7 linked regions of the Homo sapiens genome follow. The protein of the gene in region 1 interacts with the protein of each later gene in a pairwise test. Each region holds a gene or a part of one and is shown in the gene's direction. Other genes may lie near its edges.

Region 1 (3,500 bases):
TGGGCCCTTGGCTGTTCTCTGCCCCCTGCAGGCTGGCCCGGCCCAACCAAGTTGTCATGGGGCCCAAGACTCACAATACACCTGCCTGAGGCCACGATGCCACGGAAAGCTGGGCTCAGGGCAGCTTGCTTTCTCTCTGGCTGAGTGGAGGCCCTTGCTGTGTCCACAACTCCACTTCCATCTGCGCCTCAGGTCCCTGATAGGCTGGGAGGTTGCGGAGGGTGTGGGCCTGGTGCTGCTGTGGCTGCAGGTGCCCCCTAGGCAGCACCTCACCCTCTGAGGACCCTCCTCTCTGAGCTGCATCCCAAGGACAGTTTACAAAGCCCTTTGCTGACTGGGGTTCAGCTTATCTGTTGAGCAAACTTTTTCTTTAAAAAGTTTCTTGGCCAGGCACGGTGGCTCACACCTATAATCCCAGCACTTTGAGAGGCCGAGGCAGGTGGATCACCTGAGGTTATCAGTTCGAGACCAGCCTGGCCACCAGGGTGAAATCCTGTCTCCACTTAAAAATACAAAAATTAGCCGGGCATGGTGGCACACGCCTGTAATTCCAGCTACTCAGGAGGCTGAGGCACAAGAATTTCCAGAACCCGCAGGAGGCAGAGGCTGCTGTGAACTGAGATCATGCCACTGCACTCCAGCCTGGGCAACAGAGCGAGACTCCATCTCAAAAGTTTCTCAAGCCAGTGTCTCTAGGGCCTGAGGGCTCCAATCCCCAGTGTGAGGTGAGGCGCTCGGGCCTGGGAGCTGATGCCCAGCATACAGTCGGGGGTGCCCCTGCCAGGTGTGGTGCAGAGCACGGCGGGGGTGTGTGAGACCTGAGGATAGCGTCTGGATGTTTCTCTCACGTTAACGGGAATGAGATAGGCTCATTGGCTGCTCATCCCCAAATCCAAATGGAAAACCGCCATTCGGGCCAGGCAGAGGCAAGTACTCCCACCCGTTGCCGCTGCCGTGTTGAGCCCACCGTGCCGAGTGGTGTTGGCAGGAGCCTCCCGAGGAAGCTGTGCCAACGCAGGAGTGGTCAGAGCCTGTCCAGGCCACAGACGGGGCTACGATGAGCACTGCTGCCCAGGGCATGTTGGGGGCAGCTCCTGGAGACCACAGGGAGGGGAGGTGGGCACCCAGGTGTGGGCAGAACTGGACCAGGAGGAGGAGGGGCAGCAGCTTGCTCAAGGCACAGGGCCTCAGCCACAGGGTGGCGGGCTGGGAAGGGGCGAGGGTGTGGTGGGTTCTGAGTGCCCCATGCAACGGCTGTTTTGGGCCACGTGCTCAAGCAGGCACCCAGGGAAGACCAGCCTAGGTGCTGGCGTGAGGCCCTTCAACATCAGCTACGATGCTGCTTCATCAGGAGCACAGCCTGGGGAAAGAATGAAACTGACCCAGGAGACAAAAGGGTCCCCGGGCCAGACGGTCAAGCAGGAGGCTGCTTCGCTGCCGCGGGATGTGGCATCCAGGCTAGGCAAGGGGACGGCAGGCTGCCATCCCCAGAGGGAGTTCTCCGGGCAAGGCCGTGACCCCACTGGGGCTCTGAGTTTGCATCCTTCCTGTGTGTCAAGAGCAGAGCCGGCCACTGCCAGCCCATAGCTCCCATGGTGCGGCCCTGGAGAGCTGACTTCATGCGGGATGTCTGCTGTTCTTTGCGTAGCTTTACTGAGACAGAAAGCGTGTACTGTTCACTTCAGGTGGCCACAGTGTACAAGTCAGGGATTTTAGTGTATTCCCAGTTATACAGCCATCACCCCCAATTCTATCTAGATCAGCTCCATCACCTTAAACCTCAGGGCCATTGAGCAGGCACTTGCTGTCCCCTCCTCCCCCAGCTCCCGGACTCTGCTTTCTGCCTGGTGCCCAGCTTCTCACGCAGCATGCACTGCTCCTGCGCTTTCTCTGTGGCAGCCGCGGTTGCACGGCCCATGTCTTCCCCGCTGTGTGTTCATCCTCCACTGGACAGCTGGCTCTGCTTCCACTCCGTGGCTGTTGTGAATCCTGCTGCCGGGAGTGTGTGCACACACAAGGTTTTGAGTGGAGGCTTGACTTTGCCCTCTTAGATTTAGGCCTGGGAGTGGAACTGCTGGGTCCCCGGTGTTCTCATCAATTCTCTTCCAGTCTCTGGGAGAGGAGCCAGCAGCAGCTGCTTCGTTGTGGGTGGGGGGAAGGGGGAGGCCCGTTGTTCGGGCTCCCCTCCTTAATGCAGGCCTGAGCAGCCCTCACCTGGTGCCACATGAGCTACTCAGTCTTAACAGACCACCCCATCATGTCTTTGAAATTTGACCAGAGGCCAGACTTGGGGGCTTAAAGGAGTCCATGGAAAACCAGTCTGTTAACAGGGAGGGGGAGGAGAGTAGCCATCCCTGAGGAATGTGCATCCTGGGACCTTCAGGACAAGCCCTGGTCCATCTGTGTCGCACAGCAGCAGGATGTCTGCGTGGTAGGAAGTGGAGGGCTCCGGGGGCTCTGAACAGCTCCTTACCACAGTGGGGTCTACATCTCCTTCCAGGTGGCTGCGAGATGCAGGGCGTGGTGGGGGTGGGGAGAGGCAGGGGCAAGTGTCCTCTGGAAGCAGACTGTGGGCAAGACTGGAGTGGGTGTCCCAGCCATTCCTGGGCTGGGGCCACCGTCCAGGAGGCGTCCATTCCCTGTGCAGCAGGTACTGTATCTGTAGGGCAGCACCCACCCCTGCCGTCCTGGGAGCTTCCCAGAGGGGCCACGCTCCCTCTCCCCCTGCCTGGTGTGAGCAGAACACAGCAGAGTGCAGGACTGCAAGAATCACTGCAGAAGGGCGCCCCCGGAAAAGGCTCTGTTGTGAGACGTGTCCTACCTGGCCCCGGCAAGCACAGGGAAGGTGGCAGCTTGGTCCGAGTGCCCAGGCTGTGCGGCTGAAGGGGGAGTCTGGCACTTGGGGCTCCGGCGGAGGCTGAGGACTTGTGAGCCACTTCAGGGAGGTGGTGGCAGCAGCATTCAGGACCATAACCTAAATCCAAGGCAGCTCGCAATTGGACACAGTCCTCCAGAGCCAGTTGGCGTGAGGGGTTTGTTGAGGAAGGTGTGGTGAGGGGGGGTTTTGTTGAGGACACTGTGCTCACGGACTTTGGGAGTCCTCTGAGTTCCAGGGCCTCTCTGCTGGGCTGCATCTGACACTGGCCATGGCAGCCATGCGGGCCCTTCTGAGATTCTGAGGTCCCAGTTCCACAGGGCAGGAGAAGCCTGCTGACTGGCACAAAGGCCACACGCACCGAGACGTTTGCTTGCAGGGAGGCCTGGGTGGTTCTCTCCAAGGGGACCCTGGGAGAGCTGGTACTCAGGGTGTCGGGGCCACAAGGGAATTCCAAGGGAATTCCAGGACCAGCAACCTCAGACGTACAGGCAGCTGGGGCTTCTCTCCCGCGTCTGGACTTCACGGAGCTCAGGTTCTGGTGGGCCTTTGGTGTCCAAGCGTTTCTAACATCCTCCCGTACGCTTCCACCCCCGAGGGTCTGCTAGCTTGGTGAAAAGACGTG
Region 2 (3,500 bases), on another chromosome or scaffold:
TGTATTTTATTTCAGAGCCCCCCAGACATGTGGTGCTCTGCGTGTTGGCCTGGCCCTTGCTGGCTTTGCCTGGGACTCTGGGGGCGCTGGCTCCAGGGACAGCTCCAGGAGGCACCTCCTCCGCTGTTCCTGGGCAGCGGTGACCGTGCTCCCCAATGCCAGCCTGGCCCCAGGGCCTCGGGGCCTCGATTCCGCCCTGTATCTGGGGCCACCACCTGCTTCACAGGGACCTGGGACCCACTCTGTCCCTGAGCCCATTTTAGAATCTGTCCTGGGTTTATGAGACATGCTTTTCGGATTTGCATCAGAACTGCATTGAGTTTAACAGGTGAATTTAAGGAGAATTCAAAGTCCTGTTACTTTGAGCTGACCCAGTAGGAGCTTATCTCCAACACGACTTCTGAGGCTCAGGCACGTGTAGCTAGATGTATTTCTTAGATACCTAGTGTTTTTTTGTTTTTTTGTTTTTTTTTTTCCAGTATAAGTGGTTTTGCACCCAAATCATTAGAAGACCTGTATTAAGCTGTTTGCTCCAGGTCAACATGCGTGTGCTGATGGGGAATGGAGTCACTGCCTGATGGGGGGATGGAGTCACTGTCTGATGGGGGATGGAGTCACTGTCTGATGGGGGATGGAGTCACTGTCTGATGGGGGATGGAGTCACTGTCTGATGGATGGATGGAGTCACTGTCTGATGGATGGATGGAGTCACTGTCTGATGGAGGATGGGGTCACTGCCTGATGGGGGATGGAGTCACTGTCTGATGGGGGATGGAGTCACTGTCTGATGGGGGATGGAGTCACTGATGGGGGATGGAGTCACTGCCTGACGGGGGATGGAGTCACTGCCTGACGGGGGGATGGAGTCACTGCCTGATGGGGGGATGGAGTCACTGCCTGACAGGGGGATGGAGTCACTGCCTGACAGGGGATAGAGTCACTGCCTGATGGGGGGATGGAGTCACTGCCTGACGGGGGATGGAGTCACTGCCTGACAGGGGATAGAGTCACTGCCTGACGGGGGATGGAGTCACTGTCTGACGGGGGATGGAGTCACTGTCTGACGGGGGATGGAGTCACTGTCTAATGGGGTAATGGAGTCACTGTCTGATGGGGGATGGAGTCACTGTCTGATGGGGGCATGGAGTCACTGTCTGAAGGGGGATAGCGTCCTCGGCCTCCCACAGGTGCTGGGATTACAGGAGTGAGCTACAACACCCGGCCCAGGGTTTTTTCTTCACTTCTCTTGTGTTTGCTTCACCCACTCCTACTCCAATTATTTTGTTTCCTGTGACATTTAATATATCTCCTACTTCATGTTGTCTTACAATATGCATATAATTGTTCACGATTACAAGAGACAATATTACCACCCAGGGGCCATCTCCTGAGTGAGCCTGAGGCTTCCCTTTTATCTTCAGCATGCATTCTGCTAGCAGGGGACGGCCACACGCCATCGAAGTCGGCCCCTTTCTGTGTGGGGTTATCCTCTGGGTTCGATACCCCATTAAGTTTAATGGCCTCTGGTTGTATTCCATTTTAGGGCTTGGTGCTTTTTTTCTTTTTAAAATGGTATTTTTTGAATATATAAAATATTTATGTGGTTCAAAAGCCAAACTATAAAAGACGAGCTCAGAAAAGCTGTGGTCTCATGCCTGACTGACCTGCTCCTCTTATGGGCAACCAGATGATAATTTTTTTTTCTTTCTTACAAAATAGCTTGTATACTAGAATCACTATTCTGTACCTTGCCATTTTTTTTTTTTTAAGATAGAGTCTCACTCTGTCTCCCAGGCTGGAGTGCAGTGGCACAGTCTTGGCTCACTGCAACCTCTGCCTCCTGGGTTCAAGTGATTCTCCTGCCTCAGCCTCCGGAGCATCTGGGATTACAGGCATATGCCAACACACCCGGCTAATTTTTGTACTTTTAGCAGAGACAGGGTTTCACTATGTTGGCCAGGCTGGTCTTGAACTCCTGACCTTAAGTGATCTGCCTGTCTCGGCCTCCCAAAGTGCTAGGATTACAGACGTGAGCCACCGTGCCCAGCCATATACCTCGCTTTTTAGTTATGTATTTATTTATTTTATTTTTCAGAGACAGGGTCTCACTCTGTTGCCCGGGCTGGTCATGAGCTCCTGGGCTGAAGCGATCCGCCCACCTTGGCCTCCCGAAGTGCTGGGATTACAGACGTGAGCCACTGTGCCCAGCCATGTACCTCGCTTTTTAATTATGTATTTACTTATTTTATTTTTCAGAGACAGGGTCTCACTCTGTCGCCTGAGCTGGTCATGAGCTCCTGGGCTCAAGCGATCCGCCCACCTTGGCCTCCCAAAGTGCTGGGATGAGGAGGCTTCTGCCACCGTGCCCAGCCCCTTGCTTGTTTTTTTAAACTTAATAATTTATCCTGGTGTTTTCTCGATACCCAAGGGGATCAGAGCTCTTCTGAATTCCTTCATCGCTCCTGACTGCCCGGTCAACCCAGCCAGTCCCTAGTGATGGAAACTGAGTTATTTCCAACCGTCTGCTACTATAAATAACTCCTCCGTGAACAACCTGCACGCATCTTCCTTTTGAATCCTCAGCGCATCTTTAGGATATCCAGCTAGGAGAGAGACTGCTGGGTAGAGGGTAGGTGCAGCTGTCATGCTGATAAATCTCGGCGACCTCCTCAATGGGGGCCGTCCACCTTCCCTCCTGCCAATGGCGTGAAGGTGCTCACTTCTCCACAGCCCCCCACAGAGGGTGTCACGCTGGAGTTCGGTGACACGGGTGGGAGCACCTCCGTCTCAATGTGGGTGAGGACGAGGACCTCTTACAAAGCATGAGGACGTCTGCATTGCTTTTTCAGTGGACTCTGCTCATGTCTCCTGACCATTTTCCGCTAACCCTGGTGCCGGGGGAGACCAGCTCCATCTGTGATGGAGGATACAAATGGTGGTCTCAGCCTGGCGGCTATTTCTTGTTCTGCTTGTTGTGATTTTTGTTATGTGAAAGCTATTTTTTTAAATAGTTAAGTTGATTAATATTTTCTTTAATGGCTCTGGATTTTTTTTTTTTGAGACTGAGGAAAGCATAGGCTTTGCAATAAATGGTGTCTCAACAACCGAAGAGCAAAGACCACATGGGGCCCATGCCTTTACCATCCTCCAGGGTAAACTCCAGCTGGGAACACAAGTACCAGACTTTCTAATAATTACTTAAAATCCAGGCCGGGCGTAGTGGCACATGCCTGTAATCCCAGCAGTTTGGGAGGCCGAAGCAGGCAGATCACCTGAGGTTAGGAGACCAGCCTGGCTAACATGGTGAAACCCCGTCTCTACTAAAACTACGAAAATTAGCTGGGCGTGGTGGCGGGTACCTGTAATCCCAGCTACTGGCGAGGTTGAGGCAGGAGAATCGCTTGAACCTGGGATGTAGAGGTTGCAGCGAGCCGAGATCGCGCCACTGCACGCCAGCCTGGGTGACAGAGGGAGACTGTCGCAAAAAAAAGTTTTATGTT
Region 3 (3,500 bases), on another chromosome or scaffold:
CTAGACCTCTTGGACTCAAGTGATGGATCCCGCCTCAGCCCCACCAAGTACTTGGGACTACAGGCGTGTGCCACCATGCCCAGCTAATTTTTTGTATTTTGTGTAGAGATGGGGTTTTGCCATGTTGCCAAGGCTGGTCTTAAACTCCTGAGCTCAAGCAATCCGTCTGTCTTGGCCTCACAAAGTGTTGGGATTATAGACGGAAGCCACTGCATCCAGCCTTACATAAGATTTCTTTAAATTCTTTTTTTTTTTTTTTTTTTTTTAAATAAATACCATGTTCCTGGCTGGACACAGTTGCTCACGCCTGTAATCCTAGCACTTTGGGAGGCCAAGGTGGGCAGATCACCTGGGGTCAGGAGTTCAAGACCAGCCTGACCAACATGGAGAAACCCCGTCTCTACTAAAAATACAAAATTAGCTGGGCATGGTGGCGCATGCCTGTAATCCTAGCTACTCAGGAGGCTGAGGCAGGAGAATCGCTTGAACCCAGGAGGCGGAGGTCGCGGTAAGCCGAGATTGTGTCATTCATTGCACTCCAGCCTGGGCAACAAGAGCAAAACTCAAACTCAAAAAAAAAAATTTTTTTTTGTAGAAATAGGGTTTCACTGTATTGTCCAGGCTAGTCTTGGACTCCTGGACTCAATCAATCCTCCTGCCTCAGCTTCTCAAAGCCTTGGGATTACAGGCATGAGCCACTGTGCCCACCCAGATTTATGTGTTCTTCTAGGTGTTCCTGTTTTAGACACAAACAATACTAGGTACATGGAAAATAAAACAACATGATCTTTCAGTCAGCAAAAAGGTATTTAATGTCTTTTCTTAAAGATGTTTAAAAATAGCTTATCACAGGCCGGGCGCGGTGGCTCACGCCTGTAACCCCAGCACTTTGGGAGGCCAAGGCAGGTGGATCACCTGAGGTCAGGTGTTCAAGACCTGCCTGACCAACATGCAGAAACCCTGTCTCTACTAAAAATAGAAAAAATTAGCCGGGCATGGTGGCTCATGCCTGTAATCCCAATTACTCAGGAGGCTGAGGCAGGAGAATCGCTTGAACCCATGAGGTGGAGGTTGTGGTGAGCCGAGATCATGCCATTGCACTCCAGCCTGGGCAACAAGAGCCAAACTCCGTCTCAAAAAAAAAAAAAATAGCTTATCACAAGAGATGAGGTTTAATATGACAATCTCAAAAGGATCACAAGGAAATCCATGATTAGATTCCTCATGGAATTGTGAAGAAATGTCCCAGAGTTGTAGTGACCAAACTTCAAGTTCCATGCAGGCAAGTCAGATCCCTTGTCTGTTTTGTTGTTTTCTGTACCCCGTACTTGGTACAAAGATGCTTAATAAGTAGTTACTTGCGTGAACAAATGGCACCTTTGAGCACCTTGTTTTAGGGTGTCAGAGTCTTTAACCAAGACCCTAGCATGAGGTAATAATCGACAAACGTTTCTTTTAGTTTAATGTTCATTAACTTGATCTTTATTTTGTAAAGTTATTATGTCTGATATTTTCCTTCAGTCCAGTGAAATTAACACTCCAGTTGTAGTAGGATTGAATGATAGGCAAGCAAAAAAAACCAAAATTAGCCAGCCCTTGTTACTTCTTTAGAAAACACTCAATTTTGATCTCACTTATTGGAGATTATATTGTAACTTGTTACAGTATAAATACCTAACTGAATTTCTTGTCATTTCTTTCCTCTTTTCAGAAGCTGGATTATATCACATACCTGTCCATCTTTGACCAATTATTTGACATTCCTAAAGAAAGGAAGAATGCAGAGTATAAGAGGTAGGCATTAATAGTTTCTAGGCCTCTCCTGGATTTGATTAGAAGATAATGTGAAGTTTTTGAGGGTGAAGTTCTGAATTTGTTGCCTGGAAGGCATACATGAAGGCATACTTCCAGGTTTATTGGAGGATGGGGTTATGAATGATGTGGTTTTAAAACCTTTGCGATAGTCTGGACGTGGACAAAGGTGTGTCTGTGGGCACATCTTCCATCTTATGCCCATAGTGTTCTTAATTTTGTCTCATTATAGAAGGAACTCTCCCACTCTGGGATTTCTGTGTTTTTGGAGTTTAATGGGAAAAAAAATTAGACTTTCTCAGATAGTGACTGAAGTGAGATGCTTAGGTGTGATGTATAAGTGAAAAATTTATGTTTTTGTTAATTACTCTCCTGATTAGTGATTTTATACCCTTCCCCTCTTTTTCTCATTTTCTTTTTACTGAAATCTTTTATGTGCAAAGTAATTAAGACCTTAGTATTTAGCATCATTTTATGAGAATAAAAGGAGGCGGGAAAGGTCAGAATCAAAATGACATGTTGGGAAAAAAGTCCATTGTAAGTTCATTTAAAAATGAGTATTGGCCGGGCGCGGTGGCTCACACCTGTAATCCCAGCACTTTGGGAGGCCGAGGCAGACGGATCACCTGAGGTCAGGAGTTCGCGACCAGCCTGACCAACGTGGAGAAACACCGTCTCTGCTAAAAATACAAAATTAGCCGGGCATGGTGGCGCATGCCTGTAATCCCAGCTATTCGGGAGGCTGAGACAGGAGAATCGCTTTAACCCGGGAGGCGGAGGTTGTGGTGAGCCAAGATCCCGCCATTGCACTCCAGCCTGGGTAAGAGGAGCGAAACTCTGCCTCAAAAAAAAAAAAAAAAAAAAAAAAAGAGTATTAAAAAGATAGCATTACTAGAATTATAAGTACTTTATATTCTGCAGGGAATAACAAGATACCAAAAATAGAAACCCTTTTTGCTTTGTCTGCATTGTGTGTTCCTCTGTAGATACCTAGAGATGCTGCTTGAGTACCTTCAGGATTACACAGATAGAGTGAAGCCTCTCCAAGATCAGAATGAACTTTTTGGGAAGATTCAGGCTGAGTTTGAGAAGAAATGGGAGAATGGGACCTTTCCTGGATGGCCGGTGAGCTTCAGTGGGATGTGAATGGTGGACATGCCAGGGAATTGAAGTAATTATTTTCCTTTATCTTGAGCTTCCACTTTAGGGCATTAGGTATCAATTCCTTGGTATCACTTGTGACAATGAGGTATTCCCTGCCAAGTATGCTATGTTTTTTTTTTTTGGAGACGGAGTTTCGCTTTTGTTGCCCAGGCTGGAGTACAATGGCGGGATCTCGGCTCACCTCAACCTCCGCTTCCCGGGTTCAAGCAGTTCTCCTGCCTCAGCCTCCCGAGTAACTGGGATTACAGGCACGCGCCTCCACACCCGGCTAATTTTGTGTTTTTAGTGGGGACAGGGTTTCTCCATATTTGTCAGGCTGGTCTCAAATTCCCGACCTCAGGTGATCCGCCCACCTCGGCCTCCCAAAGTGCTGGGATTACAGGTGTGAGCCACCGCACCTGGCCGTATGTGAGTTTTTTTGAGTGTACTTTGGAGCAAGACTGCCAGGGTCCACTTGCCTTTGACTGTGCCCAGATTTTCACCAATCACATCATTACTGCTATGTGGTTCCTGCCAACCAAGAG
Region 4 (3,500 bases), on another chromosome or scaffold:
TTCTACCAAAGCTATTAACTCTGATTCGATATGACTTGCCCAGTACTTTCAGCCTTCATGCTCCTTTCTGGTTTCTAATTTATTTATTTCTGTAACCAAAACATAGAAACTGTCTGATACCTACTGCTGTGGTTTGAATGTGTCTCAAATTTCAGGTGTTGGAAACAGTCCTCAAATTCATTTGTTGATGATATTTGGAGGTGAGATATTTGGGAGGTAATTAGGATTAGATAAGATCATCAAGATGGTGCCCCAGTGATGGGACTGGTGGGTGGCTTTATAAGAAGAGAGACTGGAGCTGATATGCTTTTGTTCTCTCACCGAGTGATGACCTCTGCCATGTTATGACACAGCAAGAAGGCCCTCATCAGATGGGCCCCTTGACTTTGGACTTCCCAGTCTCCAGAACTGTAAGAAATAAATGTACTTTCTTTATAAATTACCCAGTCTCAGGTATTGAGTTATAGCAACAGAGAATGGACTAAGACAGAAATTTGGTACTGAGAAGTGGGGCTGTTGCTCATAACGATTACCTAAGAATATAGAAGTAGCTTTCGAACTAGGTAATGGGTAGAGGCTGGTAAAGTTTGGAAGAACAGTCTAGAAAAAGCCTATATTTCCGTAAATGGAGTGTTAAGGGTGATTCTGGTGAGTGCTCATAAGATGAGAAGACTAGGAAAGTCTCAACCTTCTTAGAGATTATTTAAGTGGTTGTGACCAAAATGTTGATAGAAGTATGGATAGCAAAGGCCATTATGACAAGGTCTCAGATGACAATTAGCAATACCCTGTTGGAAAGTGGAGTAAAGGCCATCCTTGTTATTAATTAGTGAAGAACTGGGATGAACTGTGTCTATGCCTAAGGACTTTATGGAAGGCTGAATTTAAGAGTGATGAACTAGGCTATCTGGTGGGAGAAATAACTAAGTAGCAAAGCATTCAGGCTGCTGCATGGCTACTTGTGGCCACTTATAGAGAGATGTGAGGGCAAAGGAATGACTTAGGACATAATATAATTAGAAGGGAAGAAGAGTAGAAAATTTTGGAAAATTCTCAGCCTGGCTGTGTGGAAAAGAATGAAAGAGAATTTTCAGGAGAGGAACCCAACGTTGTGACTAGCAACCCTTTGCTGAGCAGATTTGTACAAATAGAAGATATCATCAAGACAATTAGAAAAAAACCTTGAAGGCATTCCAGAGATCTTTGAGGCTGTCCCTCCCATCACAGGCCCAGGGCTCTAGGAGGTCAGATTGGTTTTCAGGAGGGTTTGTGGGGTGGTACTAATTCTGTAGGCATGTAGAATGCAAGAGCTGTGGGGGCATGGATTCCTCCACCTAGATTCCAGAGGTTGTTGAAAACAGTCTGGGGGCTCAGGCAAGAGACCTGTCCCAGGAGAAGAGCCACTGCAGAGAGCCTTTCTAGAGCAATGCCCAGTAGAAATATAGGGTTAGAGCTGCCACAAAGTTTCTACCAGGGCAATGCCTAGAGGACCCATGGGAGCAGGGCTGCCATTGAGACCTCAGGACTGTAGAGCTACCAGCATGAAGTGCCATCTTGGGAGAGCTGAAGTCTGAGCAAAGCCATAGGGGCGCCATAGGGGTGGGACTGAGCCTAGCAAAGTCATAGGGGTGGAGCTTCCTGAGGTAGTGGAGGCTCAGCCTCCATCCCAGTTTATCCAGGAAGCCCTGAAGTGGAGTCAGGGAAGATTATCTTGGAGTCTCAAGGTAATCCTCTTGAATTTTGGACTTACTTGGGTCCTATTACTCTTTGCTTCTTGGATATGTCTCCCTTTTGGAATGGGAATGTTTGTCTTATGCCTGTCCCACCATTGAATTTTGGAAGTAGATAACTTGTTTGATTTCACAGGCTCACAGCTGGCAGGAATTTAAGGTAAATTATGCCTTGAGTCTCATCCCCCTCAGATACCAAAATCTATGTGTTACTGGAAAGGGGTCCCAATCTAGACCCAAGAGAGGGTTCTTGGATCTCGTGCAAGAAAGAATTCGGGGCAAGTCCATAGAGTAAAGTGAAATCATGTTTATTAACAAAGTAAGGGAACAAAAGAATGGCTATTTCATAGGCAGAGCAGCAGCACAGGCTGCTGAGCTGCTTATACTTATTGTTACTTCTTGATTACATGCTAAACAAGGGGTGAATTATTCATGAATGAATTTTCCAGGAAAGGGGTGGGCAAGTCCCAGGACTGAGGGTTTCCCCCTTTTTATACTATAGGGTAACTTCCTGAAGTTTCCATGGCATTGGTAAACTGTCATGGGGCTGGTGGGAGTGTCTTCTAGCATGCTAATGCGTTATAATTAGCATATAATGAACAATGAGGATGACCAGAGGTCACTTTCATCACCATCTTCGTTTTGATGGGGTTTGGCCAGCTTCTTTACCAAGTGCTGTTTCATCAGCAAGTTCTTTGTGACCTGTATCTTGTGCGGACCTCCTGTCTCATCCTGTGACTAAGAATGCCTTAATTTCCTGGGGATGTAGCCCAATAGGTCTCAGCCTTATTTTACCTAGCCCCTATTCAAGATGGAGTTGCTCTGGTTCATACACCTCTGACACATGGATGCTCAAGTCCCTTATATAAAATAGCATAGTATTTGTGTCTAGTCTATGCACTTCCTCCCATATACTTTGTCATCTCTAGATTACTTATAATACCTAATGCCTTATAAATGCTATGTAAATAGTTGTTGTACTGTATTTTAAATTTGTGTTATTTTTTATTGTTGTATTGTTATTTTTCATTATTGTTGTTAGTATTCTCAATCTACCATTGGTTGACTCTTAGGATGTGGAGGGCTATCTATAGTTCTATTACTCAATTTTAGTAATCCTTAATCCCTTGCCTAACCTGAGGGATTTGTGCCAATTTTTCTTGCTTCTTCCTGCTCCTAAATTAGGAAAAACCTAAGCAGGGGGAAAAAATCAAACATTGCCTATTTTCCTTTCCTCCCCAGCCAACTAAATGGACTACTTGGAGGCAGAAGGATTTATTTAGCTTTATTCTCTTAGAAGGCTTTGTAATTTATCCCCCCTTTCCCAATTCTGATACTGCTCCCCCATTTTCCCCCACTTGTGAACAGTTGAGAATTTTTGTCGCAATAAGCCATTGGGTGTGTGCTGTATTTATCGGATATGTGAAATAGAAAAGAATTAAGAACTAGTAAAGTAGAAACTATTTTGAAGTAAGTTGTGAAACTTTCGGTATTCTGAATGCAGAATGCCAATTACATGTTTTTTACTCCTGAGGAGTAACTTTGGTTACTTTATATTCATTAGAAAAAATACAGTGGAAAATTTAACTTTAGCAATGAAAATGCTTAACATGGTCAAATTTTTGTTCACTGATCTTTTTTATTGAATGGGTAAAGCCAATGTTTACACTGCATATGATAAATGTTTTGCTTTCTTTGATCAAATTTACATTCAAAGAGCTATTATAAGAAACATTCTATAAAAATTCCAATATGTTGTTAAAGTAGATT
Region 5 (3,500 bases), on another chromosome or scaffold:
ACAGCTCCTAGAGTGGAGTATTTTGGGCTGAGACGATGGGGTTTTCCAGATATTGGATCATGTCATCTGCAAAGAAAGACAACTTGACTTCCTCTCCTCCCATTTGACTACACTTTATTTCTTTCTCTTGCCTGATTGCCCTGGCCTGAATTTCCAATACTATGTTGAATTAATGACTCAATATATGACTAAAAGTTCAAAGTGAAACAATGATAATTCAGATAGGAAAATATGTGGCAGTATGCTAAAGTCTAAAAAGGAATATAAAACGTCTGTGAGATACCTAACATCAGATTTATAGAAACAGAATAGAATGTAGGTTGTTGGGGGCTGCGGACAGGGCGAAATGGGCAGTTGCTTGTAGAAGGGGTATAAAGTTTCAGTTACACAATTATGAGTAAGTTCTAGAGATCTGCTGTCCAACATGATGCCTGTAGTTAATAATACTGTATCATGTACTTAAAAATGTGTTAAATGGATAGATCTTATGTTTTCTTCCACAATTGAAAAAAAAAAAAGTCCTATAGAATCATTTGAAATGATGGGTTTCTTGGTGGCAGGGGGGCTTTAATGAGATCTGTACCCTTTCTTGCTTGATTTCCCAAGTTTAAGATATTTTAATGAATAAGAAGGCACTTTAAATAGACTTTAATCCAGCTTTTACAAAAATTTAATAAAGCAATATATTAATCTTAGGCCATTTTTGATACCTTAATTTTATCCCAAGAAAGAATAAAACATATTCTATTTTTAGTAAGTAGAGTGCCTCGCAGAAGAGGAAACAAGTCAGAACTTTTCTGTTTTCTTAAATGTTCTCTAGATTGGGCAGCATATAAAACTCTCCTTTGAAATTTAGAGTGCACACCAGCCTATTAAAGTCTCAGAGAAGTCTAGCTGTAAAGGAACTTGTTTAACTTTATTTACTGGCTTTCTTAACATTTCTTTAACTTTGGAAGCCTTTATCCCCAGGAACTTTAACATCTCACAGGCCCTCATAACTGAGGAGCACAGTTATGGAATCAGCTTGTCATTGCCAAGGTGGCCCCTTCTTTCTTCATACAGGGGATAATGAAACCTATGCTGTGTCATATGCAGAGAGCTAAAGCAAAGTGCTAGGAGATTAATGTTCAGCCAGGCCTTTCTTGTTTTTAGGATGACAAAAAGGATTTGTGTACCTTCTCTGGAGAAAATAATTAGGTTTATTCTCCTTCCCCTTGCATGTGTTCTGACTTACCTATCCAGGTGACCAGATGGCCTAGAACTGTCTTAGGTCTTTTAAAAGAATGTGCAAGGGACTAAGCCACTGTTTGTAGTAACTACTGTTTTACAAGAAAAATTTCTAGTGTTTTTAAAATAAGCTTTTAAATAAGCCATTAATTCTGAAATACCAGTGCCACTGTAAACCTATAAACAAATCCAAATGTTCTCTTAATTAAATCAATGTTTATTATATCTCATGAATTTTAACAACAAAGACGTGGGAAGACCACAAAACAATGGACAAACAAAAAATCAGATTGATTAGAGAATTTACATAGGAAGAGTTGAGAGTTTTTTTAAACCCACAGGAAAAAGAATTGTGATCATTTTTAGCAGGCTAGTAACATTCTTATCGATACAGGAAATAAAGAATATTTGGTTTGACTATATGACAAAGTAAAAATTTCTGCTTTGCTTATAATGCAGCCAAATACAAAATCAAACACTGGGTAAACACAGCAAGTAGAACAAACGGTTAATGTTTATATTTTTTGAATAACTCTTGTAATTTAAGAAAACTATCAAACCCAGTTAAATGAGAAAAGGATAAACAGTTCACACATGAGGAAACTGTTGGTCGTCAAAGGAATTCGTTTCCTTTGACTAAGATTTTTTACCCACCTGCCCTCATGCTGTGCCTGGTGTTGGCATTTCAGCGGGAAGACACTCTTTGTCCTGTGGGGAGAGGGAGGCAAGGGACACATTTAAAACAGTTGTCAAGACATCATACATGAGAAGAGAGAATGAAATAATAAGGGAAAAAAATATTAGGAAGGCAGACAGGTAGCAGTTTTTTTGTTTGTTTGTTTGTTTTAAATCAGGAATGTGAGCTGAGTAAGATACTTTGACAACTGTTCTTAAATTTGTTAATAGTATTGGCAAAACACTGCACACTGCAAAGTGGTTCAATTTTATTGATAATTCCTAAAATGACAAACTTTTTTTCTTTAGTTTTGCCTCAGAAATTATCCTAATGAAATAATCCAAAAAGAAAAAAAACAGGACAGAAAAACAGCGCATATATTGAATAGGGCTTGGCAACTAAATAGGAATTTTTAATGTAATGGAGCATGAGTTCATGATTAAAATTATGATAAAAATAGTTGTAACATGAAACACTGTCATGATAGGTGACTGTAGTTGCATTTGTGTTGCTTAATTCATTTCTGTAAAATAAGCCTGTGTACTTCAGTAAGATTATGATATGTTAAAATTTGTTTTGTGTAATACTTACATACTTACTAGAAGAAATGTTGATTCATTTTATTACAAGTGATTTTTTGCCCTTTTTTAGCTGACTACACAGACTTAGTCTTCTCCACTCCGTGTTCCTGCAGCTAGAGACATGACCTAACACCCTGATGACCACTCTCAGGGACCTTGAGTGACTGGCCGGTGCACCATGGAACTTAAAGTATGGGTGGATGGAGTTCAGAGGATTGTTTGTGGAGTCACTGAAGTCACAACTTGCCAGGAGGTTGTCATAGCCTTAGCTCAAGCAATAGGTGAGTGAACTCTGTGGGTATCTGAGAAAAGTACATTGTGCTTTCTTTCGTTGTATGTGTTTGTTTTAAATATAGATTTCTAGGGGATTTTGTTCATTTGGTTCCATAATAAGTCTCACAGGCACTCTTGTACTTATTACAGTTTGCCTGTGTTTAGGTACATCTGTGATGATGCTTGTTCTCTGACACCCCTAGATTTTACTAACCCTGAGTTAACATCTACACTGCCTTCTCCTCTCCTGTTGTTCAGCCTAAACAGTGACTTCTGAAACTAAAGATGTTTCCATGAGCCAAAATTTAGACCCAGATTAAGAATTTAGATTCTTAGTTCCCAGAATCCCTCATTAGGAAAAATCCCACCTATTGTTTATTTCTCCATACTTTCAGAAAATACAACAAATGAAATAACATCGTTCTTCACTGGAAAGATAATGTATACTTTTAAAATCTTATGATTGGCTGGGCATGGTGGCTCACGCCTGTAATCCCAGCACTTTGGGAGGCTGAGGCAGGCAGATCACTTGAGGTCAGGAGTTCGAGACCAGCCTGGCAAACATGGTCAAACCCGTCTTTAATAAAACTACAAAAATTAGCCGGGCGTGGTGGTGCGCACCTGTAATCCCAGCTACTATGGAGGCTGAGGAAGGAGAATGGCTTCAACCCAGGAGACAGAGGTTGCAGTGAGCCAAGATCATGCCACTGCACTACAGCTTGGGTGACAGCGAAACTCGGTCT
Region 6 (3,500 bases), on another chromosome or scaffold:
GCATCTTTCAACAGTAGCATGGAAGCGATTCAAGAAGAGTTAGGAATAGAAGGAAAAATTGGAGCCATTTGCTACATAATTGTAGAAAAGACTTTATGGTGATTTCTGAACATTTCCAATGTTTAAAGACAGTTGGGATAAAACATGGATTTATCATAGCTCCTCTTTTCCAGGTAGCTTGAAATTAGTCTGCATCCTTTTTTAGTTTCTTTGGTTAAATCTGCATTTATCTCTTATTATCTCAAACCACACCATTCTTCCTAAGAAGTTCCAGTGGCAAATACTTTCTAGTCAGCAAGGTAGTTTCACCACACAGTTAATTACGTATAGTTTTAAAGCAGTCTGCTAGTTTCAAGACAGGCACTGTCTGCATTTCCTATGAAGAATTGTTAGACGAACCTAAAAGATTACTAGGTATTCAAGATCAAGATCAATGGAAATTAGATTAGCCAAAACAAACAAAAACCAAAACTCTGTATGTTCTTTACCATCTTTATTTTATTTGTTCTTCACTGACATTTATTATGGCAAGTACTTGTGGTTACTGGTTTATATGTGGGAAAGATAGCAAAGAAAGGGGTGACAGAGGAGGTGGAGAAATGAGGTCAGAAATTGAGCATGGCCAAATGGATAAAATGAGATATGATAGCACCTTTAATAGCCAGATATGAAATTATGTATTTTTCGTGACTGAATTAATCATAATAGTGCTAGTGCCAAAGACATAGGAAAAAATTATCAAAATATCTTTAGTAAATAGTTTGAGAGTAAAGTAACAATATAGATCCCAAAATTATTAGGGTGTTTTGAAGGTAGAACCCTGCATATATAGCTAACATTTTTCATTTCTTATTCTATTCTAATTCATTGATCGTGACTCAAAAAATACAGATTCAAAACTGTTTACTAGTCAGATATGTATGTTCACAACAGTCTGACAAAAATAAAATTAGTGTTCGATATTTAGCTGATATTTAGGATTTGAAATATGCAGTTATCTTCTGTGAATACAAAATTGGCACTTGCTGCTTGGGTATGTGGCCTTAATTCGGCAGTGCCAGCACCCACAAAGCTATTGACTGTTGGGATCTTTGTCCGTAATTAGCATTAGCTGCCACCAGTAAGTTATAGCATTTTGATAATGGCTTAGTGACTGAAGAGTTAGACATCTTATAGGCATAATTATCTTAAACAGAGATTCAAACATTTTAAACATGCTTTTCTACCCCCTAAAAAGGCACATGACTTATTTAATACAAAATTATTTTTAATTGAAGTCACAATGAAATTTTGTAAAGCAAAAAATAGAAAACTTTCTTAAATTTCTCAAACTACTTTGCATTCAGTATGCCATTTAATCTTTTTAACAGTTCTATGACTATCCCCATTTTAATGCAAAAAACTAAATCCCAGAAATTTTAGACTTATACCAGTTACATAGCTGGTATTTTAAATTCTGACTTCAAACCTTAAGTACACGTCCCTGAAGGCTAGAAAGTTAATTATTTCAGTCACTACTTAATGTAATAGAGGATTCCCTGAAAACTGAGCAAAATGTTTTCTTCAGTTCCCTGTATTCAATATCCTAAGCAGTTTATGGTATATAGCCTATTCAAAGGAAAAGAGAGCATGGATAAATTTTAACGTATATTTCACAGGATAGTTTTGATGCTTCTAGATTTTCCTTGATGAAGTGACATAATGAATATATTTTTTATAATTTAGATTAGTTTCTGGATGATACATCAGTCCTAAGTTGACTACCAACTTTGGGGTCTTCATAAGTAACACAGTAATGACATTTGGCACAGGCTTGATCTCTGAATATAGAATTAAGACTGCAAACCAGCTCTGTTTCAGGAATTTAAGTCATAAGAATATATAATCAGGTTGCATCAGAACAGAAAGAATAATTTTATTGCAGCAGAATCTGTCACAGTGTGTAGATGTGAGCATACATTTGAATTGTATACTTACACTCTTATTCATGAAAAAATCTATTTTTAGAGTAAGTGGTTAAAGGGATGATTACATCTCACATGCGCATTTAATCATCTTGTCCACTATAATTTTGCTGTCTGGTCTCAGAAAGGGAAAAAAACTTTGGACAATACTTATTACTTTATTGACTGTGTTAGTTTCTTCTTCTTAAGTAGACTGTTGTCATCTCTTTTCTTTTGAGTCCAATTTTCCTATAGTTTGTTTATGTCAATGGCTCGACAAAATGATAAAATATATTTCCAGAAAGCACATGGATTTGGAACTCTCTCTTGTTATGTTTATATTAGGCTTTATTTTAAAGGCAAGTGAGACTGCTTCAAATAAAACAACTTCAAGCTTCCAAGAAACAGTTAAGAGGAGGCAGAGAAGAGCAGAAACACTTCTTTGCTGACACTTACACTGTTGCCATGGACCTACATAAGCAGTGGGAGAACACAGAGACTAACTGGCATAAGGAAAAGATGGAATTACTGGACCAGTTTGACAATGAAAGAAAGGAATGGGAAAGTCAATGGAAGATTATGCAGAAGAAAATAGAAGAGGTACACTTTAATTTGTTTTGGATATACTGTAATGTTTAAGTGCAGGATGAAAATTCTGTGGGCTGTTTTGTATTGGAAACTGTTTTTGATTTCCTTATTCGACCTAAGAGGTACATTTCTCAGTGACATTTACTAGAACAAAAATAGCATAATCTTATCCAATGGTATTGTAAGGATTATTTTATATCATTGCATGAAAATTAAGCATTTGAAATGTCACTCTATAATGTTTCAACTTATTATTTTCTGGCTAGAGAGCTTTTTTATCAAAAGTGAGGTATGTATTTTGCATGAATTTTCAAATACCAGGTCCAGGAGTAAAATGCAAGAAAGATATACTTGGTGGGACATAGATTAGCAAAATTATAGTTGGGCATTAGAACATAGATCTTTCCTAAGAAGATTTATGAGTAATGTCTATTAAAGGAAATTACATGTTAGATAATGCAGTATAATCAAAAGGAGTATCATATATCAAACAGAAAATGGCAGTAGACATGAGATTTATTCTATCAAGGTGTGCACATTTAGTGGCATATTTATTGGAAAAGGAGTTATGAAAAATGACATATCACGACTCTGACACAGTCATTTTGTTCCCGTTAACCCTCCCTCAGTCCGTTGACCCTGAAATATTTCCTTCAAGCATTTGCATTGATGTATATTCAAGCTTTTGCACCAATTGGAAATAATTTATGCTTATCTTGCTTTCTTTTGGTAACATCCTTAGTATTGACTTTATATGGTTTTATGCACATTACCAAAGTTGTTATTTTAAGACTTCTTGGCCTTTTTTGCAGGCAAAGTAAGTGCTTTATGTGTTTATAGTACAGTCATGTTTCTTATTAACAGCCATGTAATTGACTGTGAATAAAATATGAATTGGCATAGTAGGAAGAAAGCTGAAGAAAAGTAACTATTAAGCCCTTCCTCTAAAATAGAGCTGAGAAGGCAGGC
Region 7 (3,500 bases), on another chromosome or scaffold:
TTGCAAGCCATGCAGTCTCTGTTGCAACTATTCAACTCTGCCTTTAGAGTTTGAAAGCAGCCATAGACAGTATGTAAATGAATGAGAGTGGTTGTGTTCCAATAAAACTTCATATATGGATGCAGAATTTTGAATTTCATTTAATTTTCATGTGTCACAAAATATTCTTTTAAAGATTTCTTTTCAACTATTTGAAATTGTAAAAACTATACTTGGCTCATTGATACCTTATAAAAACGGGTGGAAGGCTTGGTTTAGCCTGTAGGCTATAGTTTGTTAACCCCTGCTCTTGAGTAGCACTGTCCTGTAGAACTTTCTGTGTTGATGAAAATGTTCTATTTCTGTGCTATCTAATATGAATGATAGGTATTAACCACATGTAGCTATTGAGCACTTGAAATGTGGCTGATATGACTGAGGACATACTATTTATTTAAATATAGAAGCTACCAAATTGGGTAGTACAGTTCTAGAGCTGTGTGTTTAAGCCAGTTCTATTGGAGCATATGCTGATATTTTCTGAAAAATGTCTCTCTCCTTTACAGCTTTCATGTTACAGACCCAGCCCCTTGCTCTACCTCTGGAGTCACAGCTGGATTAACTAAATTAACTACAAGAAAGGACAACTATAATGCAGAGAGAGAGTTTTTACAGGGTGCTACTATAACAGAGGCTTGCGATGGCAGTGATGATATTTTTGGGTTGAGTACTGATAGTCTGTCTCGTTTACGAAGCCCATCTGTTTTGGAAGTTAGAGAAAAGGGCTATGAACGATTAAAAGAAGAACTCGCAAAAGCTCAGAGGGTAAGAAAGAAGATATTTTATTCTTCCATATATTATATTAGAAATTAGTATTTCTCCATGGGGTGGGGCAACCTGCAGAAATGAAATCATGATGGTTGTACATTTATCCGTCACATATGCCCAGCCTCAGCTCCTGTTAGGCAGCATTTAGGAATCCGTGAAACTGGTTGGGTAGTAAAGAAGTTCCTCTAAGACTACTAACTGGAAAAATGTGGCTCTGTTAACTCTTCTGTGCCCCACTGCATTGCCTGCTCCCTGTCTCGTATTATCTGTAATGCAGATTGAGTGGGCTATATTCCACATGCAGGGTTTTTCCTTCTTACTACATGGCTGACTAAATGGTTATTTACTTGAAGTCACTCAGTCTAAGTCATTTTGTTTTGAGTTTAAGCTGAGTTTGAATATTTTCTGTATCTTACCTTGGAGAATTTTCTTGGTAAATTGTTGTGTTTCCCATTTGGTCATTTTAAAAGTTTCTGCTATTTATTTCCAAACTTGTGGCCATATCTTATTCTTTTTCTGAGTCTGCAGTTAAATTTCAGAGGAAAATTTATAGAATGAAATGCATACATCAGAAAACAGGAAAAGTCTCAAATGGACAATCTAAGCTCCCACTTTAAGAATCTGTAAAAAGAAGAGCAAAATAAAACCAGAGCAAGTAGAAGGAAGGAAATAATAAAGAGCAAAAATCAATGAAATTGATAACAGAAAAAATAGAGAAAATGAGTGAGACAAAATGTTGGTTCTTTAAGAAGATTAATAAAATTGCAAACCTCTAGCAAGACTGACAAAAAGAAGACAGATTTATCAGTAGCAGGAGTGAAATGCAGGATGTCACTGGAGACTCATATCAAAAGTATAATGGAATGATATGAAAAACTGCATATATAAACCTGACAACCTAGGTGAAATACCAATTCACATGTAGAAAATTGAGAAGGTAGGGCAAACATTTATAGGTGTAATATCCAACCTACCATGACATTTCACAAATGTATTCCCACTCTTTCCCTAGCATACTTGTCTCTCATGAGCGTAGTATATTCATTTTTTTAATCCCCAGTTCCTTCCCAAAGGAAAAGGATGTGGTGAGATGTGGTTGCATTTTGTTTCTGTCATCTGGCTCAGACTTTGTTGTCTTAATAGATAGTATTTTATTAAAATCACACATTATATAGAGGTAAAATTTTGAGTATATGTATCCATCTTTGAGAACACATGGTTATTGATCAGAACAGATTGCTAATTTCTTAGCTCACTTGAGAATTTCCTTTGAAATCTCTAATATGCTGTATTTAGAGATACTGTTTGGATAATTGAAATGGTGATGTGTAAACACATATGTGGTGACTTTTATGAAGAGTATAAGTTAGTATTAATATTTACTTAGATCTCAAGGCTTGAAAAGGACTCTTGAATATAAAAATACTTCCTGAATTGTGACAACTTGTGAATCAAACTATGTCAACAGCCATTTTCTTTAGTCTTATCTTAAGAGAGGCCATTTTCTATACTTTTTACTTACTTGGTTAACTGTGTCTTCCTATTTAATACGAGTTTCTTATAGATAGTGTACAGTTAGGTCTTGTTCTTTTGATCCTTTGTAATTATCTCTGTCTTTTAATTGGTGTTTAGACCATTTACATTTAATGGATAATGGTATAGTTTGGTTTAAATTTACCATCTTACTGTTTGTTTTCTGTTTGTCTCATTTGTTCCTTTTTCCCTTTTGTATCCTTTCTTTTGAATTAATTCTGTATTTTTAAAACAATTTCATCTTCCTGTGGCTTTTATCTTTGTTGCTTTAGCGTTTATAGTAGACATATTTAACTTATCACTCTCTACCTTCCGGTGATATATTACTTTACATCTGGTGTACAAACCTTACAAAAGTATACTTTTATTTTTCCCCTCCTAGTTTTTGTGCAATAATTGTTGTATGTTTCACTTCTTTGTGTGTTTAAACCCCACAAAACACTATTGTTTTGCATTAAACAGTATTATCTTTTAAAGAGACTTAAATAATAACAAAGAATCTTTACATAGATAAACATCAGAAATGTTAGCTACATGGGCATCTGTGTGTTCATTCCTTTTTTTTTTTTTTTTTTTTTTTTTACAAGTTTTACTTTTATTTTTGAATGATAGTTTAACGGGGCATACAATTCTAGGTTGATGGTTGTTTTTTTTTTTCTCAACAAACACTTTCATAATTTTACGTCTTTGTCTTCCGGCATCTATCATTGTTGATGAGAAGCCAGCTGTCAATGTAGTTGTCATTCCTTTGTAGATAATTGGTTTTCTTCCTCCTTCTGGTCACTTCTAAGATTTTTTTTTTTTAATTGATCATTCTTGGGTGTTTCTCGCAGAGGGGGATTTGGCAGGGTCATAGGACAATAGTGGAGGGAAGGTCAGCAGATAAACAAGTGAACAAAGGTCTCTGGTTTTCCTAGGCAGAGGACCCTGCGGCCTTCCGCAGTGTTTGTGTCCCTGGGTACTTGAGATTAGGGAGTGGTGATGACTCTTAACGAGCGTGCTGCCTTCAAGCATCTGTTTAACAAAGCACATCTTGCACCGCCCTTAATCCATTTAACCCTGAGTGGACACAGCACATGTTTCAGAGAGCACAGGGTTGGGGGTAAGGTCATAGATCAACAGCATCCCAAGGCAGAAGAATTTTTCTTAGTACAGAACAA

Evidence for each region.
Region 2: the proteins of JPH3 (region 1) and MLC1 interact in binary tests that used the Homo sapiens proteins (3 or more experiments, as listed by UniProt).
Region 3: the proteins of JPH3 (region 1) and SF3A3 interact in binary tests that used the Homo sapiens proteins (3 or more experiments, as listed by UniProt).
Region 4: the proteins of JPH3 (region 1) and GPR75-ASB3 interact in binary tests that used the Homo sapiens proteins (3 or more experiments, as listed by UniProt).
Region 5: the proteins of JPH3 (region 1) and RASSF8 interact in binary tests that used the Homo sapiens proteins (3 or more experiments, as listed by UniProt).
Region 6: the proteins of JPH3 (region 1) and KIAA0408 interact in binary tests that used the Homo sapiens proteins (3 or more experiments, as listed by UniProt).
Region 7: the proteins of JPH3 (region 1) and RAB3IP interact in binary tests that used the Homo sapiens proteins (3 or more experiments, as listed by UniProt).

Annotation. Positions count from the first base shown.
Region 1 is NC_000016.10:87,693,008-87,696,507, forward strand, and holds part of JPH3 (junctophilin-3), read left to right. Parts: intron 1-1,629; exon of another isoform or gene 1,630-3,134; intron 3,135-3,500. UniProt on the Homo sapiens protein: Junctophilins contribute to the formation of junctional membrane complexes (JMCs) which link the plasma membrane with the endoplasmic or sarcoplasmic reticulum in excitable cells.
Region 2 is NC_000022.11:50,064,927-50,068,426, reverse strand, and holds part of MLC1 (membrane protein MLC1), read left to right. Parts: intron 1-3,500. UniProt on the Homo sapiens protein: Transmembrane protein mainly expressed in brain astrocytes that may play a role in transport across the blood-brain and brain-cerebrospinal fluid barriers. Regulates the response of astrocytes to hypo-osmosis by promoting calcium influx.
Region 3 is NC_000001.11:37,980,023-37,983,522, reverse strand, and holds part of SF3A3 (splicing factor 3A subunit 3), read left to right. Parts: intron 1-1,711; coding exon 1,712-1,794; intron 1,795-2,798; coding exon 2,799-2,937; intron 2,938-3,500. UniProt on the Homo sapiens protein: Component of the 17S U2 SnRNP complex of the spliceosome, a large ribonucleoprotein complex that removes introns from transcribed pre-mRNAs.
Region 4 is NC_000002.12:53,695,968-53,699,467, reverse strand, and holds part of GPR75-ASB3 (GPR75-ASB3 protein), read left to right. Parts: intron 1-3,500. UniProt on the Homo sapiens protein: Probable substrate-recognition component of a SCF-like ECS (Elongin-Cullin-SOCS-box protein) E3 ubiquitin-protein ligase complex which mediates the ubiquitination and subsequent proteasomal degradation of target proteins. Recognizes TNFRSF1B.
Region 5 is NC_000012.12:26,052,682-26,056,181, forward strand, and holds part of RASSF8 (ras association domain-containing protein 8), read left to right. Parts: exon of another isoform or gene 1-315; intron 316-2,554; 5' UTR 2,555-2,662; coding exon 2,663-2,765; intron 2,766-3,500.
Region 6 is NC_000006.12:127,452,890-127,456,389, reverse strand, and holds part of KIAA0408 (uncharacterized protein KIAA0408), read left to right. Parts: intron 1-2,288; 5' UTR 2,289-2,408; coding exon 2,409-2,543; intron 2,544-3,500.
Region 7 is NC_000012.12:69,755,860-69,759,359, forward strand, and holds part of RAB3IP (rab-3A-interacting protein isoform alpha 1), read left to right. Parts: intron 1-545; coding exon 546-804; intron 805-3,500. UniProt on the Homo sapiens protein: Guanine nucleotide exchange factor (GEF) which may activate RAB8A and RAB8B. Promotes the exchange of GDP to GTP, converting inactive GDP-bound Rab proteins into their active GTP-bound form.